Regions from separate parts of the Homo sapiens genome. Here regions 2, 3, 4 and 5 are each reported to be linked to region 1. Evidence: microRNA targets listed by miRTarBase, many of them from high-throughput screens and not tested one by one. Region 1 holds a microRNA gene; each other region holds the end of a gene's coding sequence.
The links. Region 1 holds the annotated microRNA hsa-miR-30a-5p (UGUAAACAUCCUCGACUGGAAG, at 2,091-2,112, opposite strand). A microRNA usually pairs through its seed, bases 2 to 8, with sites in the 3' UTR of a target mRNA and lowers its output. Matches are read on the target gene's strand: a 7mer-m8 pairs with bases 2 to 8, a 7mer-A1 pairs with bases 2 to 7 and ends in A, and an 8mer does both.

Region 2: the mRNA of TIMM9 is a reported target of hsa-miR-30a-5p. The part of its 3' UTR that is shown has no 7-base or 8-base seed match.
Region 3: the mRNA of SRPRA is a reported target of hsa-miR-30a-5p. Seed matches in the 3' UTR shown: 7mer-m8 at 777-783.
Region 4: miRTarBase lists PPA1 as a target of hsa-miR-30a-5p. The part of its 3' UTR that is shown has no 7-base or 8-base seed match.
Region 5: the mRNA of STRIP1 is a reported target of hsa-miR-30a-5p. Seed matches in the 3' UTR shown: 8mer at 1,827-1,834.

Annotation. Positions count from the first base shown.
Region 1 is chr6:71,401,505-71,405,832 of GRCh38, forward strand. MIR30A (microRNA 30a) reads right to left here and starts at 2,117; the gene lies at 2,047-2,117. RefSeq lists an enhancer at 585-1,113.
Region 2 is chr14:58,406,570-58,409,569 of GRCh38, reverse strand. It overlaps TIMM9 (translocase of inner mitochondrial membrane 9), which reads left to right. Exons shown (of 6, transcript NM_012460.4): 6 at 402-1,075. The coding sequence ends at 536. It overlaps TOMM20L (translocase of outer mitochondrial membrane 20 like), which reads right to left. Exons shown (of 5, transcript NM_207377.3): 4 at 2,102-2,244; 5 at 868-1,041. The coding sequence ends at 988. Among named protein-coding and RNA genes, the nearest start is that of TOMM20L, 12 kb to the right of the region's middle.
Region 3 is chr11:126,261,149-126,264,148 of GRCh38, reverse strand. SRPRA (SRP receptor subunit alpha) reads left to right here. Exons shown (of 14, transcript NM_003139.4): 14 at 105-1,211. The coding sequence ends at 233. It overlaps FAM118B (family with sequence similarity 118 member B), which reads right to left. Exons shown (of 9, transcript NM_024556.4): 8 at 2,665-2,724; 9 at 1,181-2,029. The coding sequence ends at 2,016. Among named protein-coding and RNA genes, the nearest start is that of SRPRA, 6.2 kb to the left of the region's middle.
Region 4 is chr10:70,200,532-70,203,531 of GRCh38, forward strand. PPA1 (inorganic pyrophosphatase 1) reads right to left here. Exons shown (of 11, transcript NM_021129.4): 11 at 2,304-2,655. The coding sequence ends at 2,624. Among named protein-coding and RNA genes, the nearest start is that of PPA1, 31 kb to the right of the region's middle.
Region 5 is chr1:110,053,448-110,056,447 of GRCh38, reverse strand. It overlaps STRIP1 (striatin interacting protein 1), which reads right to left. Exons shown (of 21, transcript NM_033088.4): 21 at 1,807-2,783. The coding sequence ends at 2,536. Among named protein-coding and RNA genes, the nearest start is that of ALX3, 16 kb to the left of the region's middle.

The DNA of each region.
Region 1 (4,328 bases):
GTTGATGTTATTTTATTTATTTATATGTATATCTATATATATATATAGATATATTTTTTTTGAGATGGTAGGCTCGCTCTGTCGCCCAGGCTGGAGTTCAGTGGCACCATTTTGGCTCACCACAACCTCTCCCTCTCAGGTTCAAGCAATTCTCAGCCACCTCAGTAGCTGGGATTACAGGCACGTGCCACCACACCCAGCTAATTTTTGTATTTTTAATGGAGACAGGGTTTCACCATGTTGTTCAGATTGATCTCAAACTCCTGACCTCAAGTGATCCACCTGCCTCAGCCTCCTAAAGTGCTGGGATTACAGGCGTAAGCCACCGTGCCTGGACTGTTGATGTTACTTTAAAATAGTAGTTTACATTATTACTGTGGAAATGTGGGGCACAAGACATAAGAAATACTAGGTATTAATTTTGAAACTACCCGGAATGGCTTATGGAGGTTTGTATTTGTTGATTTAAAAATAATTAAAAATGCTGTAATTTTTACAAATTAAAAAGTTCCCATAACTAATTATTTACATGAACAAAATGAACAGATAAAAATGAAAAATGGAAAATTTAGGGGCAGTAAGGTAAGGAAGAGGATATAAAATAACATAGGAAGAGAACCTAAAGAAAGTGAAGGTCAAAGATTTAGGAAAAGTTTAACCATTTCTTCAAACCTATAGTCATTTACCTAGGAAATACGGTCGGGTGACCCCAGAAAAACAGCCGAGTTATTTGCTCCAGGGGTTTTCAGCTTACCAATTAAAATAGACCACATTCTCAGTTCCAGACCCAGGGCCTGGCAGAGGCCTCTCCAAGCCCCTTGCATTTCAGTGGCAGTTGATGAACCTCTCATGGCCCAGCATGACTAATAGAGTTTTGATAGCTTTATGTATGAGGGAAACTTAAAGACATTTCTAACACATATTTCTCTCCATCCCAGGTATTAGAAGAAATGCTACTATTTTAAATAGTGGTATGATCATACTGTTTTAGTATCACTTCTTTATCATCATCATCAATGGGTATTAAACAGGGAAAAGAAACTCTTTTACATTAATGGAAACACTATATATTTATAAAATACTGTGTTTTAGAGGACAAAAGATATCACTTTCATATCTTTTTAAAGTGTCTAGTTTCTATATAAGTGTATCCTTAATATTTCTATTATACACTTAAATATTTCTCTTATACACTTAAATATTTCTATTTAAGTGTATAATATTAAAAATATCCGCCATAAGAAAAATACGCATTTACAAAAAAGGAAAATTAGAAATTATGTCCATCACAGAAATCTTCTACAGGATTCTGAATCTTAAAATTGTCTTCATATATTTAGGATAGAATTTGATGTATTTATTATTTTTAAGAGATATGAGTTATTGCATAAAGCTAAGTTAAAAGTTCAACCAAATGGAAACAGTATCCACAAATTCCTAAAATACTATTCTAATCATCTGAAACAAGAATAGGTTTTTCAAATAATAGAGTTAGTTGAATCAGTATTTGTTTGTTTTAGACACTTTATTAAGCTGAGAGCTGCTACTTTATTACTTAAACACTAAGCCTATAAGGAAATAAAAGGGGTTTAATCCAAGTAATGTGAAAATAACTAACCCTTCATCTTACTTTTTTCCCCCAAATAATTGTGGTTTCATTAATGGATTTTTTTTTTGTGAATGGGTCTAAAAAACACCTATTTTGAAACTGCAGAAAGGGCAGGACAAAACAAATCACTTCATAGATTTTTCTGGGAAATATTGCCCTACTACGCTTTTAAAAAAAATAAAAATACTGTAACACATTTCCTCATTTCTCTTACGAATACTTTCTTTTTGATATTGCAAATTCTATGCATACACAGAGCACCTCCTCAATGCCCTGCTGAAGCCCTCTAAAAATGTACAGACATGGTTTTAAAGTGATTTAATTTATACCATTTTAATTCAGCTTTGTAAAAATGTATCAAAGAGATAGCAAGGTATTCAGTTTTAGTAAACAAGATAATTGCTCCTAAAGTAGCCCCTTGAAGTCCGAGGCAGTAGGCAGCTGCAAACATCCGACTGAAAGCCCATCTGTGGCTTCACAGCTTCCAGTCGAGGATGTTTACAGTCGCTCACTGTCAACAGCAATATACCTTCTTTAGCCTTCTGTTGGGTTAACCTGAAGAAGTAATCCCAGCAAGTGTTTCCAAGATGTGCAGGCAACGATTCTGTAAAGTACTGAAGCCTCATTCAAACAGCAATATTCTAGAAAATGTCTCAAATTCAAAACAAATAAGAAGGCTCATGGATGTCTATTATTCATCACCGAGCTTCTAGTTTCTATAAAATTTTGTGATATACTAAAACAACATATATAAATGGTTTCATTCATTATTGTTAGCCACAAGAAGTAAATAGGCAAGTGGCCAGGTTACTTAATATGATTTCAACATGCATTATGTAATTACAATCCTTTAAGCAAAAGTGACCAAACACAGAAACTAAATTATCTTAACAGCGTAAAGCGTACATTTAACATCAAATACTGCAGTTGAGTGAACTTAGACTACCGTGAAAATATAAAAGGTCTACTTGGAAAGTTATAAACTCTGACAAAAAAAAAAAAGACTTACATGCTGCTTTTATAGATCACTTTTGCTCTAAAGTCTGCTCCCAGAGAGGACTTGTACAGTCAGCTGATTTTTGAAAGAGTAAGCAACAATCAGGAGAAAAACAGAAAAGAATAACGAGGTATAACACAGGCATATATCAGTATGTGGATCAAAGTTTCCCACTGGAAAAACACAGAACCTATCACTCACAACAGTGACGCACATTAACTCCAAATTTGAATGTTTTGAATTCCACTCCCATTCTCTTATGAAAATAAATGAGGAAAACTGAAGGTTAAGCTCTATCAGTCACTACTTTCCTGAAGTAATTCAAAACCATTCTGAATCTAGTGAAAGATTAAGTTGATACAGAAAAGTGGGTGTGCCTTTCCCTGAGATTTGTTTTTAGATGAAGTTACCGTAAGGTTCTTAAATTGTGTAAGTCTTAGTAGTTTGTGATCTCAAACCCGAAACAAAAATAAAATCCACACAAAAAGCATCATGTTTACTGAAACTAACAAATATGAAGAACTCCATAAATTACTTTCTCAAAGCAAAGGGTAACTCTATCCCATTAAGGTTAAAAAAGTTAATCTTTGAGTCAGCAGGTGAAAACAAGCTGAATTATGTTGTGGCCTTTTTCTTTATTAACTAAGGACTTTGAACTATTAAAACTTCCTAGGGAACCAGTTTTCTCAATGGGTCAAGTCACACAGGGGAACAAAGCAAACTTTATCAGTGCTGTGCAATTCTACATTCCAGAAATTCTTAGTACTTGGCATTCATATACCACTGCTGACTAGAGCTTGAGTCAATCCACCAAACTCAGCTATGGCTACCAACCTTGTGAACTTCTCACCAAGATACCCACTTCTTTTAAGTTAGCCACGACTAGACAGGCAGAGTACTCTTTAATTAAAATAGATAAATACCAAGGCTTACACCCTGGGGGGACATTGTATATCAGTGACTCTTTACAAAAAGAAAATATTTTTACCACCATAAATTTTTCTCAAAGTGACAGGTCCCCTACTTGCCTTGGAATCTTACCACTTTTAAATAACTGTAAATTATTAAATAACATGTAAAACAGTGACAAGTAAATACTAAGCAAACAACCTCAAATAACAAATAATTACTTAAATAATTCTATTGCCACCCTCTCACTTTGAGAATTGCTGATCCAAGTGGGACCTATACTACTCAGTAACCAAAAAAACAAGCATGTAGTTTAAGTAATAATGAGTCTCAGTTAAACTGGTAAAATTGTCTGGCATCTGACTGGAATAAATCTGCTTTAGCTTTCACATAGACTTCACCTAGCTCATATCTTGCTAAAAGAGGAGCCCACATACATACAGGCAATAAAGTGCTTTTCCATTTATGAAGTATTATAACTAAGATCTTATGGTCTTTAATTATTTTGTTTAGTGAAAATTTGATGTTTATTCATGAAGTTCTGAGCAAAACGCTGTGTTTTCAAAGTTATGTTAAGGAATTCATTGGATCAGCAATTCTCCAAGTGAGAGGGTGGCAACAGAATGACCAGGACAGCTTCTTCTAACCCCACATACCTGATTGCCTCTGCCACATCCACATTGCAATTCTTATTCAGCTGATGGGGAGGCTGCTGGGTATGTAAATTTTGCAAAAGCTATCAAACAATTTTGCTACACCTTCAGGGCAGAGAACCATTGATCTAGAAGGACTGAGCTAAATAAGTTTAAGACT
Region 2 (3,000 bases), not on the chromosome of region 1:
TAAAATAAGTAAAAGGTTGAGAATTAAGAATGTTGTTTTCTCATTAAAAAGGAACAAACTTACTACTGGGTCTACATTTTAATAATCGAAACAAGAAGACAGGAATGTGGGCTTTCACTTAATACACTTGCAGAAAATCTAGTCCAGAAGCTTTTTGAAAACAGAGACTTATCATTGCTCTTAGTGACTACAAACTGGCAGGCATTCAATATATATTAATGCTTGTCAGTGAATGAAAGTATCAATTAAAAGCTATGGTCAGTTGCTGCCAATTAGTACTATTTAATTCTCAGATATATTCAAAGAAAAGCAAACTACCCCACTGATTCTTTTAGAATACATGCATTTTAAAAAATTCATATTTTTGTGTTGCCTCTTGGATCTTCCCTTTTCATTCCTAGACCACCTGTTCAGAACATTGCTTACAGAAATATTTAAAAATGACACAAAGAATATCCATGAGATTTCAGGAATATCATATTCAGCAGAATGAAGCCCTGGCAGCCAAAGCAGGACTCCTTGGCCAACCACGATAGAGAAGTCCTGATGGATGAACTTTTGATGAAAGATTGCCAACAGCTGCTTTATTGGAAATGAGGACTCATCTGATAGAATCCCCTGAAAGCAGTAGCCACCATGTTCAACCATCTGTCATGACTGTTTGGCAAATGGAAACCGCTGGAGAAACAAAATTGCTATTTACCAGGAATAATCACAATAGAAGGTCTTATTGTTCAGTGAAATAATAAGATGCAACATTTGTTGAGGCCTTATGATTCAGCAGCTTGGTCACTTGATTAGAAAAATAAACCATTGTTTCTTCAATTGTGACTGTTAATTTTAAAGCAACTTATGTGTTCGATCATGTATGAGATAGAAAAATTTTTATTACTCAAAGTAAAATAAATGGAAATATCACTGAGCAGTTGTTTATACTGTATGGTACCATAGTATTCTCACTGGACTGTGGATACGTTGAAATGTTTTTCAATCAGGATCATCCTCCAAGCAGTCCTGTTCATTCATGTCTGCCTCAAATTGCTGGTGAATACATAAAATAGTTACTTGCTAATCATTTCAATGCATGATCCTTTTCTTGCCTCCCTTGTGTCAGGGTGGGCATTACATATACTTTTCTTTTTTTTTTTTTTTGAGACGGAGTTTTGCTTTCGTCACCCAGGATGGAGTGCAACGGCACAATCTCAGCTCACTGCAACCTCCACCTCCCCAGTTCAAGCAATTCTGCTGCTTCAGCCTCCCAAGTAGCTGGGATTACAGGTGTGTGCCACCATGCCCGGCTAACTTTTGTATTTTTAGTAGAAATGGGGTTTCACCACATTGGCCAGGCTGGTCTCGAACTTCTGACCTCAGGTGATCCGCCTGCCTCAGCCTCCCAAAGTGCTAGGATTACAGGCGTGAGCCACCGCGCCTGGCCACATATCTTACCTACATTTTCGTATATCTTCAGGAAACAATCCCATCTGCCCTAGTTTGGGAATGTTTAAGAGTTGACTGTTATACTGTAATGGAGTTCATGTTTGTGTTTTGTTCAAAAGCTGACAGTCAAATATGATAGATTCCAAGGCTTGCCAATGATAAAAAGGGAACCAAAGTTAATGTCTTATGCCTAATGAATCCTGAAATGAATCCAAGCATTTGCAGGAAATTCTAGTTGATGCATACATACACCAAGCAGTTTAGTAAAATGGAAGTGGACTAAAACTTACTAATCAACTGGCTTATGAATGGATTTCATTTGATACCATTTTAAACCTATATTTAAGAGAATGCTAATTAGCCTGTATGTTTAAATTTACCAAAGTGATTTCTATGTTTTGTATGTTAATGGAAGTAGAAGCAATGTTCTGCTTTAAAATTGAACTGTTGAAATACGGATAATACAAGAAAATATACAATTTATTATAGTCAAAGGAAAATGAAGAATAGGCTTGCTTCGTGTTAAAGCAGCCAAAAATTCAGAGATTTCACTTATTTAAGATTTTGGGCAATTCACACACATACTTTGATATTTCTGTGTAGTCAAGCATAACATAGCTATTTACTGTGTACATTTCACAAAGATAATTAAATATGTGCTCACCTGGCAAATAAGGGGAATTTTGTGCAACAGCATCTCAAATACCTTGGGAGGGAGAGTGTGTTTGAAAACTTTCAGAAGTTCCCGTGGTTGCTCGCACACTAAAAGGGCATTGCCGAGGTGTTGAATCCCCATTCTGTGCTCTCCTGAAACAGAATGACAAGTTTTGAGCAAAATTTTGAAGTTCTTTAAAACAGACATTCTACAAATCCAAGAAAGCAACAAGCATTAAAAATTAAAAGCATATCCAACTAAAGACTACTTAGACAAGTCTTGTGAAGAGTAGAGTACAAATATGAGGAAGATGTTGAGCTTCACAGTGGTGAAGCGGCAATATTAATTTTGAGCCAAATTACAGCAAGTATACTCTTACTGTTTAGAAGTATACTCTTGCATTGGAAATGCTCGTGTTCTATAATTTGGGTATGGAGGGAAGAGGATACTGAGGTTTTTTGTAAGCAGTTGTCTGCTTTTATTAATATCTGATAGGTTATCTTTACATGTGTGATTGAAAAAATATTATAGATGAAACATCTGATGTTCCAGCTAAATGGAACTTAAAAAAAATAGATTTCACTATCAAAGAGTTGAAACAAGATGTAGTGTAACATGAATTACATACCCCAGGGAAAAAAATAAGAGATTTATGAACTCTGATTTCTAAGCACAGTTTTAAAGTGAGTTTTAGGATGATTGGCTTTGAAGTAACAACAAATGAAAATATGTGAAGAGTGAAAATTAATCATAGGATTTCTGTTTAAGTTAGAACATGGAATGACTTTAATCCCACTCCCTTGTTTTACTTTAAGGAAACAGGCAAAGATCAGTGAAATGATGTATAGTTTCAATGCTGATTAATGCTAGCCTTAGGAATATAATCTAATTTTCTGACCCTTGAGACT
Region 3 (3,000 bases), not on the chromosome of region 1:
GGAGCTGAGGCTGCAAGGAAATCTTGGCTCCAGCGCTTCCTGTTCCTGAGAGGGTGAGTGAAAAGTGGGCTTGTGTTGATGGGCTGTCCTCTTTCTCCACTTAGGTGGGAGCTGCTATTTCTATGACGTACATCACAAGCAAACCCATCGTCTTTGTGGGCACCGGCCAGACCTACTGTGACCTACGCAGCCTCAATGCCAAGGCTGTGGTGGCTGCCCTCATGAAGGCTTAACGTGGCTCTTGCCCAATACCAAATCGCCGCTTTCCCCACAAGCCCTTCTTCCTGTATCAAGAATGTGCTTTAGAGTATGTGAGCAACCTGTCTTCAGTGTAGTACAAAGGCAGAGTGAGGGGGCTTGTGGCTCCTTCCAACCCCACTCCCCGTTCAGCACAGCCGCCATCTGCAAGGAAGGCCTAATCATGTTACAATCACTGCCCACTGACCCTCTCCCAGCGGGCCTCCCCCTTCCTACTCAGGCACCCCCTTCACTCTGCCTACAGACTCAGTCTTATTACAGCTTTGACCAATGGTTGGAACCCAACACCAGAGCTTTGCTAATAATTAGTGTGGTCAAGAGCCGTCTGAGCCTAATGAGTCCCAGCTGCATTAGGTTAAGAGACTCTTCCAGAGCCAGCGCCAGGTCTTGAATGGCACCTCTCCCTAGGATACACAGCCTGCAGGTCCCCAGGACCTGGATGACACCCGCCTCACTGTGGCAGTGTATTGCCTGTTAATTGCTGCTAATTCTAATTCTGATGATGACTCCTACTCCATTGTTTACCCCAAAGCATCAGCTAGGCTGGAGTGATTTGTTACAAATGAGCAAAAGATGAGTCCTTGCTTCCCTCAGAAATAAAAGGAGCTCAGCTGCAGCGTTGCATTGGGCTTCTTGGCCTCCCAACTCTTCCCACTCCCAGAATCCAGAAGTAAGCTCTGCATGTTCCCCTTCCTGGGAGGAAACCAATTGTCAGAAGGATGTATGATGACCCCCTCCCCTCCCATCCTTCACCTCCTAAGCAGTCCTGGCTTTTCCTCATCACTCCCCTCTACAGTGCCTGGTAGACAAGTGCTACATTGAAGAACACAAACCTCTTGTTAAGACTTGTCCTGTAGCTTGATATTACAGATGTGCTATTAGTGCAATAAGGTGAAGGCTGTCTGCCCAGAGAAATAAGTAATTTATATAAGAAAATAAATTTCATAAATAAATTGCCTTTTAGGTCTTGGAGTTCTTTTATACAGGATTCAAAACTAAAATTCCACAACACACTTAACTGTAGTTCTAGGACATATGTATGGTCAGGACAACAGAGCAGAAGTTGATAATGCTCCGAGGAATCAGGTAAGTAAACGGTTGTCCTGAGAATGAGATCACTCCACCCCAAGGAGAAAGATCGGAACCTTTAAACTTTGGGTTATTAAAATTAAGCTTATTAGTACCTTGATGCAAGTTAGAGTTTCTTACAATGACTCTAAAAGTAGAGCCAGGGTCCTGGCAAGTAAATGAACAAGCTTTTAATACAGCTTAGTTATGTAAAATACTGTACACTGTAAAAGATCTAGAAAACTAGAGCTTCAAGTCATGTTTTAAAAAAGCCATTAAGCTTAATTGAAAAACCAAGTATAGAGTACAAAACTGCAACAAGAGCCACAGTGATTCCATGGCATCCAGACCCCGAGTCCTTCATGCAGAGCTGCAGCCGGTCAGTGGAAGTATCACATTGGTGTGCTGTGTGGACACAAGCATGTCTAGCCTGGGGAGTGGGTTGGGAGCTGCATTTGGGTCCTGCTGTCGCTTTTATTCTTGAACTTGAACAGGCGGCAGAATATCAAGAACCAGGTGGTATGAAGGATTACGCTGCAACATTCCCCCCTCTTCTACCCCGCCCTTCAACCTCTGGCTATTGTTACTTTCTGGGAATTGTGTTGGGTTCTTGTAAGTTTACTTGTTAAACACTGTCTGTAGTAGGGCCTTACAGCTTGGTCTAAACGGTGGTGATTTCTCTAGCTCGCTCATGTACTACAGCCTGTAGGGAGAAAGAAAAGAGAACAAAATGAAGTTTCACAAAACAGGTTTATACATTGGAAGCTGCAGATACTTAAGTCAATCCTAACCCTTCAGAAGGCAAGACAGGAGATTCTAGGAATCTTGTAATTTATTTAAAATTTTATTTACTTTTTAGAGACAAGGTCTTTGTCACCCAGGCTCAAATGCAGTGGCACAATCAGCTCACTGGGCTCAAGCAATCCTCCTACCTCAGCCAGTAGCCGGGACTATAGGCACACAGCACCAGACCTAGCAATTTAAAAAAATTTTTTTTGTAGAAACAGCATCTTGCTATGTTGCTCAGGCTGGTCTCAAACTCCTGGGCTCAAGCAATCCTCCTGCCTCAGCCTCCCAAAGTGCTGGGATTACAGGCCTGAGCCACCACACCCAGCAGTACTTTTTTCAAAAAATTAACTGATCACTGCACTAGATTGTAATAGACTTGATAGGAAAAGATAGAATCCTTAATGGGTAGGAGAGGAAAATCATTCTCTACAGTGTTTTTTAAAATTTGGCAATGTGAGGTCCAAAGTAACATTCTCTATATTCTTAACCAAGGACCTAGAAAGACTTTCTGCTACAGAGTGATAAATAGTAGAATAGGAAACAGTATACCTCTTATTTCACTGTGTGCTGCAGATGAGCCATTTAGCTGACCTTCTCTCACCATCCCTGCTAAATAGAGGACATCAGCATCAGACATTAGACTGAAAAGCTAAAACTATTAATAGCAAAAAGAAAACTAAAGGGAGATGAGGACATATGGTACGACTGAAAAGGAATGGGCATTTAGAAATGAAACAATCATTGAGAAGATAAGGAGGCAGAGAGGATAAACTGGAGTAGTCTTTAGACTTGCATTACCTAACAGGGAAGCAGTGAGTTTCCACAGTGCACTACGATTGCTTGTAGACAAAACATTTTACATTTTACATTTTACATTTCACATAC
Region 4 (3,000 bases), not on the chromosome of region 1:
TGACCATAAAAGGAAAATGTGGTAAGTTGGTCTTTTTAAAAATTAAAAGATTTTGCTCTGTGAAAGAGTATGTGAAAAAAATGAAAGAACAAGTTGCCAACTGGGAAAAAAATGTTTGCAAACCAAATATCTGAACTCTGAAGGACTCCAAAACTTAACATTAAAAATGAAACTAAACAATTTTAAAATGAGTAAATGACATGAACAGACATTTCACCAAACAGGATATACAGGTGGCAAACAAGCACATGAAAAGATGTTTAACATCATTAGCTATTAGAGAAATGCAAATTAAAACTACCATGAGATACTACTACACACCCAACAGAATGGCTAAAATAAAATATAGTAGGCCAGGCAGGGCAGCTCACACTTGTAATTCCAGCAGCACTTTGGAAGGCCGAGGCGGGCGGGTCACTTGAGCCCAGGAGTTCGAGACCAGCCTGGGCAACATGGTGAAACCTCATCTCTACAAAAATTAGCTGGGCATTATGGCACACAACTGTATTCCCAGCTACTTGGGAAACTGAGGCAGGAGGATTGCTTGAGCCTGGGAGGTGGAGGTTGCAGTAAGCCAAGATTGTGCCACTGCATTCCAGCCTGGGTGACAGTGAGACCCTGTCTCAAAAAAAAAAAAAAAAAGGCAAACCAAATGCTGGCAAGGATGTGGAAAAATTGAATCACTCCAACATTGCTGTTGGGAATGTAAAATGTGACCATAACTCTAGAAAATTTGGTACCTTCTAATAAAACATGCATCTATCATGTGACTCAGCAATTACACTGCTAGAGATCTGAGAGAAATGAAAATGTTTTATGTTGACGTGAAAACATGTACAAATATGTTCATTGCAGCTGTATCTGTAATAGCCAAACACTGGATCAGCCCAGATGTCCTTCAACAGGTAAAACAAAACATATCATGGAAAGTACTCAGCAATAAAAAGGAATGAATAAAAAGAATGAAACATTGATATATGTGGCAACTTGAAGGAATACCGGGGAATTACACTGAGTGAAAAGCCAATCCTGAAAGGTTACATACTGTATGATTCCATTTATATAATATTCTTGAAATGACAAAATCATAGAAAAATGGAGGACAGATTAGTGGTTGCCAGGGGTTACGGATGGTGGTGTGCAGAAGACAGGGGGGAGGTGGGTGTGATTATAAAAGGGCAACACGAGAGATCTTGTGGTGTTGAAACTGTTCAATATCTTATAGGATACATAAACTTACCTAGGTGATTACACTATAGAATTATAAATTATATAGAATACATCATACAAATATTCATTAATACAGTGAAACTAGGAAGTCTGAATATGATTGGTGGATTTGGAGTCTGTATATGATTGGTGGATTATATCAAAGTCAATGTCCTGGTTGTTATACTATAGTTTTACAAAATCTTACTTTTAGGAGAAACAGGGTAAGGTATACAGAATTATTTGAATTATCTCTGAATTACTTTTTTAGAACTACATGTGAATCTATATTCATCTCAATAAAATTTTCATTAAAAAAATCTGAATGGGCTGGGCACAGTGGCTCACACCTCTAATCCCAGCACTTTGGGAGGCTGAGGTGGGTGGATCACTTGAGGACAGGAGTTCGAGAGCAGCCCGGCCAACGTGGTGAACCCCGTCTCTACTAAAAATACCAGAATTAGTCAGGCATTGTGGTGCATGCCTGTACTCCCAGCTACTTGGGAGGCTGAGGCAGGAGAATCACTTGAACCCAGGAGGCAGAGGTTGAAGTGGGCCGAGATCACACCACTGCACTCCAGCCTGGGCGACAGTGAGACCCTGTTTCAAAAAAAAAAAAAAGAATCTGAATGCATACTACATGCCATTACATGAATAATGTCTGTTTCACAGATGAAGGAACTGAAGTTGAGTGGTTGGTAAACTGACTTAAGATTACAGAGCTAGTAAGAAGATGGGCTGGCATTCAAACTGGTTTGTTCAGCTGATAACTTAGAATATAATATAAATGACTTAAGCGTCCAATTAGTTGACTGAAGAAGTAAAAAAATAACTATTAATATATAACTTCAAAGGGTGAGCAACATTGTGCTTTCTGCTAATATGATATAAATTTAAAAACTTTTGCTTTAGAATGGTATGCTAGGACTTATGTACTAGAGCATAGTATCAAGAGTACTATAAATATAAGCGATTTCTTCGTCTAATAATTATAAATTTGAATTATAAGACTATCAACAGAAAACAAACACCAAAAAATACCCATACCTACTTAATGTTGGCTTCAGATTAAAATAAAAATATCCTAAGCCAAGTTTCAGCAAAATAATTTTATTTCCTAACATATGGTAACATATACATCCAATATGTGCTCCCCTTGCACATCTATTCACAAGTGACTTCCAAATGACAACTGCTTTGATATTTAAGCATGTGCTAAAAGTTATCTTAGTTGAGATATGAAAAATGCTTTAGATGGATAACATTCTGAGTATATTGGATTAGTCACAGCAGAATTTACTTTAGTTAGATGAGTTCTACAAATTTAAAGCTTTGAAAAGCTACTACTTTTACTTCTAATACATCCAGATGAACACGATGTAGCAATATCAGCTTGTATTCCAGAGAAATCTCATTAGTTTTTCTGGTGATGGAACCACTTATCCACTGTATTCAGAGAAAAGAAAAACAAATTAGAATTCCTGTTGAGAATCAAAAATACACCTAACATATAACAAAGACTAATATACTTGCTTTAATGAATCCTACTATGAATTACCTGAAAATTAACAGGCATACATACAAAATTTCTCTACAGCAAATGCAGGTGTTTTCTTTTGGGCTTCCTTACACTTCATGCTAATTGCATAGTGTGATTTTCAAACTTTTTTTTTTAATTTCGAGACAGGGTCTCACTCTCTTGCCCAGATTGCAGTGCAGTGGCAGCAATCATGGCTCACTGCAACCTCCATCTTCCAGGTTCAAGCAATTCTCGTGCCTCAGTCTCCCCAG
Region 5 (3,000 bases), not on the chromosome of region 1:
CTGAGACAGAGGCCTGGATTTGAATCCTGGCTCTTGCCTTTATATGACCTTGGGCAAGTTCTTTATCCTTTCTGTGCCACAGTTTTCTCCTGTGCAAAATAGGGATTAAAATGGCATGTATCTTTCAGGATATCACAAGGAATATGTAAGATATTATACATCAAGTGGTTAGAACGCTGGCTGGCACATTGTAAGTACTCAGCATTTGCTGGCTTTGTAGAAAATAAGGCTTTGAGAAGCATCTAATATTGTGCCTGGTACCTACTTGGCAACCCATAAGTGGTAACTCTTACGATTAACAAGGGACAGCTCCCATCCTTAGAGTGATACTGCCTCAGGGTAATCTGTCCCTCGGTGGATTGAAGGAGCAGTGGACCCTGACCCTGCTTAGCAATAAACAACATTTTATGTAACTCAATCAAAGTACAAAGGGTCTTCATGTACTCTGCCCATTTCATGACCCATATGAGATTTAAAAAGCCACAAAAACTGTGTGGCTCCAAAAGACATTTCTGTACAAAGACCTGAGTTCAAATGGCCAACCTGCCACTAATACACTCTGTGGCTGTGAGAAGCCCCTTCCTCTCCCCAGGCTGGCTCCTGGGCCTACAGCTGAAAGGATTTGCCTGCCCAGGCTTTATGGCCCTTGCAGCTTTGATAGTCCTGCATTCTCTTTTGCAGGTCAGAGGAGAGACAGGCCTCGACCACGCAGTTTCAGTGACTCAGGCTTCATGGGAGAGTAAGAATGTGAAAAATCCATCTCTCCCTAATTGAAATCTCAAGATACATATTTCCTGTCAGTCCTGGAAAGAAATAGCAGAAAATCCATCATCCACACATAAATTGTGTCAATTCCCTTGTCCTGTACAAGTTACTTTGGGGCACAGGGCCCATCAGTCACAGATGGGACTTCCCATCTCACAGCTGTGTGACCATCAGGAGTACACTGCTGCCTTCCACCCCTGCTGTCCCTAACCATGCTGGCACATCAAAAGGCCTGTCCTGAGGCTCAGCAGGTCCCAGGCCAGGCAGGCATGAACACAAGACCCAAAGAAGGGGAGATGCTCCCCAGAACATGTTTCCTTTACAAGTCAAGACCCCTTGGAGATTTAACAACCTACAAAACAACTGCCTACAGGTAAAATAAGAGCTTCCAGGAATTCTAAAAAGGAAACACTCCTTTCACCAGCATCAAAACACTAATATCTTCTCAGGCAGATGAAACCAGGGGTCTGGAGGCCAAAGTGGAGGCGCCAGGTGTCCACTGACACCTACTACAAAGATTTTCCTTGCTTTTCTCTCAGCCACAGGGGGCTCCTGGGCCCTCCAACACTTTTTCCCACCGTGAACCTGACTCCTGATGGTCTGCTTCCTAGGCTCTGAGTACTGAAGTTTCCCCTCAGTCCCAACCACCTGCCCCAGGGAGGACCTAGAGCAGCAGACCCCCTTGCTTTGACCTAGCCCCTCCCTCCATAGCACTGACACTGGTTTGGCTGAGGCCAGCTCAGTGATGTGATCCAGAGAAACCTGGGGCTCCTACTGAAATTACAGCAAACCCAGGGGTGCAGGACAATGTGTCAGTAAAGTAACCTAGTGCCCTGGAGTTGGGCTAGAGCAATCCCAGATTACTGTGGGGTTAACTTACACTGGATAAATGCCAACTCTCTCTCCTCTTCCCCCAGGATGGGAAAGGCAGGCAGCTTGACAAGGACAAGCGTTGACCAGCAATGCTAGCAGAAAAAACCACTTTCTAGACCTGGAGGAGATACGTAGAGGCCATATTTCCTGTAGACAAGCCAACGGGAATTATTTTTGCTTCTTTTTAATGTAAACAGAATACACAATCACATTAAAAACCCCAACATGACACAGAATACACACAGAATTATATATAGATATTTACAGGCCCTCGAAAGCCAAAAGGAAAAATGGCCCCTCTGGTTAAGGGAAGCTTCTCTTCCTACCTTGTCCCTGTCCAAAATCAAAGTGCTGAGGCAGCTGAAGGAGCCTCCGCAATTACTTCTGGATATAATGTAGCAGGAGGCTGGAATAACATCAGAAACACCCCACCCCCACCCCAGAGCACAACCAAGATACCGACTTTCTGGCCCTGGCCCTAATCCTAAACTCTCCTCCTTTGCAAGCTGACAAAGCAAGGATTTGTATGTCTCGAGAGGCATCAGCATGACCCCTGAAATTCAGATGCACGGCGGAGGGGTTCCCATCCCATTCCAGCTTTCCCAGCCTTGGGCTGATTGTGAAATGAGCCAAAACCAACCATATCCAAGAGAGGAGGGTGGGGGAAGTAAAGGAAGAATGGATCTCAGGCAGAGATGACTGCTTCGGAGCAGGACCCTGGGAACCAAGGGGAGGTCAAGCTGGGCTCACCCAAGCCCAGGACAGACTGCGGAAGACACAGTGGGGCTGTGCTGCCACCTGGTGGGGGATGGGAGCACTGCAGCAATGAACTAGGACAGTCCCACAGGTACCTTCAGATCATCTTTTCTCTCCATTTCAGTCCCCTAACCAACAGCCTCACTGCAGCAGCTCTTCCCAGGAAATGGGCTTGGAGAAGACCTCCCTTTCTAACCAGAGGTCATAGTTCATCTGAAAGTCCTCAGGGAGGTCCACCCGTTGGCCCAGGACACTCTGCAGGCAGTTGTCCACTGGCAGGAAGTCAGGGTTGCTGTGGGCCCGGTCATAGCGCCGGGCGTTGAAGCGTTCAATGTTGGCACGAAGGGCACACTCCTCTGCCTGGAAGTCCCAAGGCCGGGCATCAAGATCTGAGACAAAGCAGGAAGAAACACCGTTAGGAGCCATGCCCTGTAGCAGCTCCCCATGGATTCACTGGCCAGGAATATTGAGTGTCAACTAAGAGCAGGATACCTCCGAGCTCATCCTCAGAAAGATGCCAGGAATTCCTTCCTAGATCCAAAGGAGAGTCAAGTACAAGCAGAAAAGCCAGAGGTACTGAGAAAGAGGCTTATACTGTAGGGATTA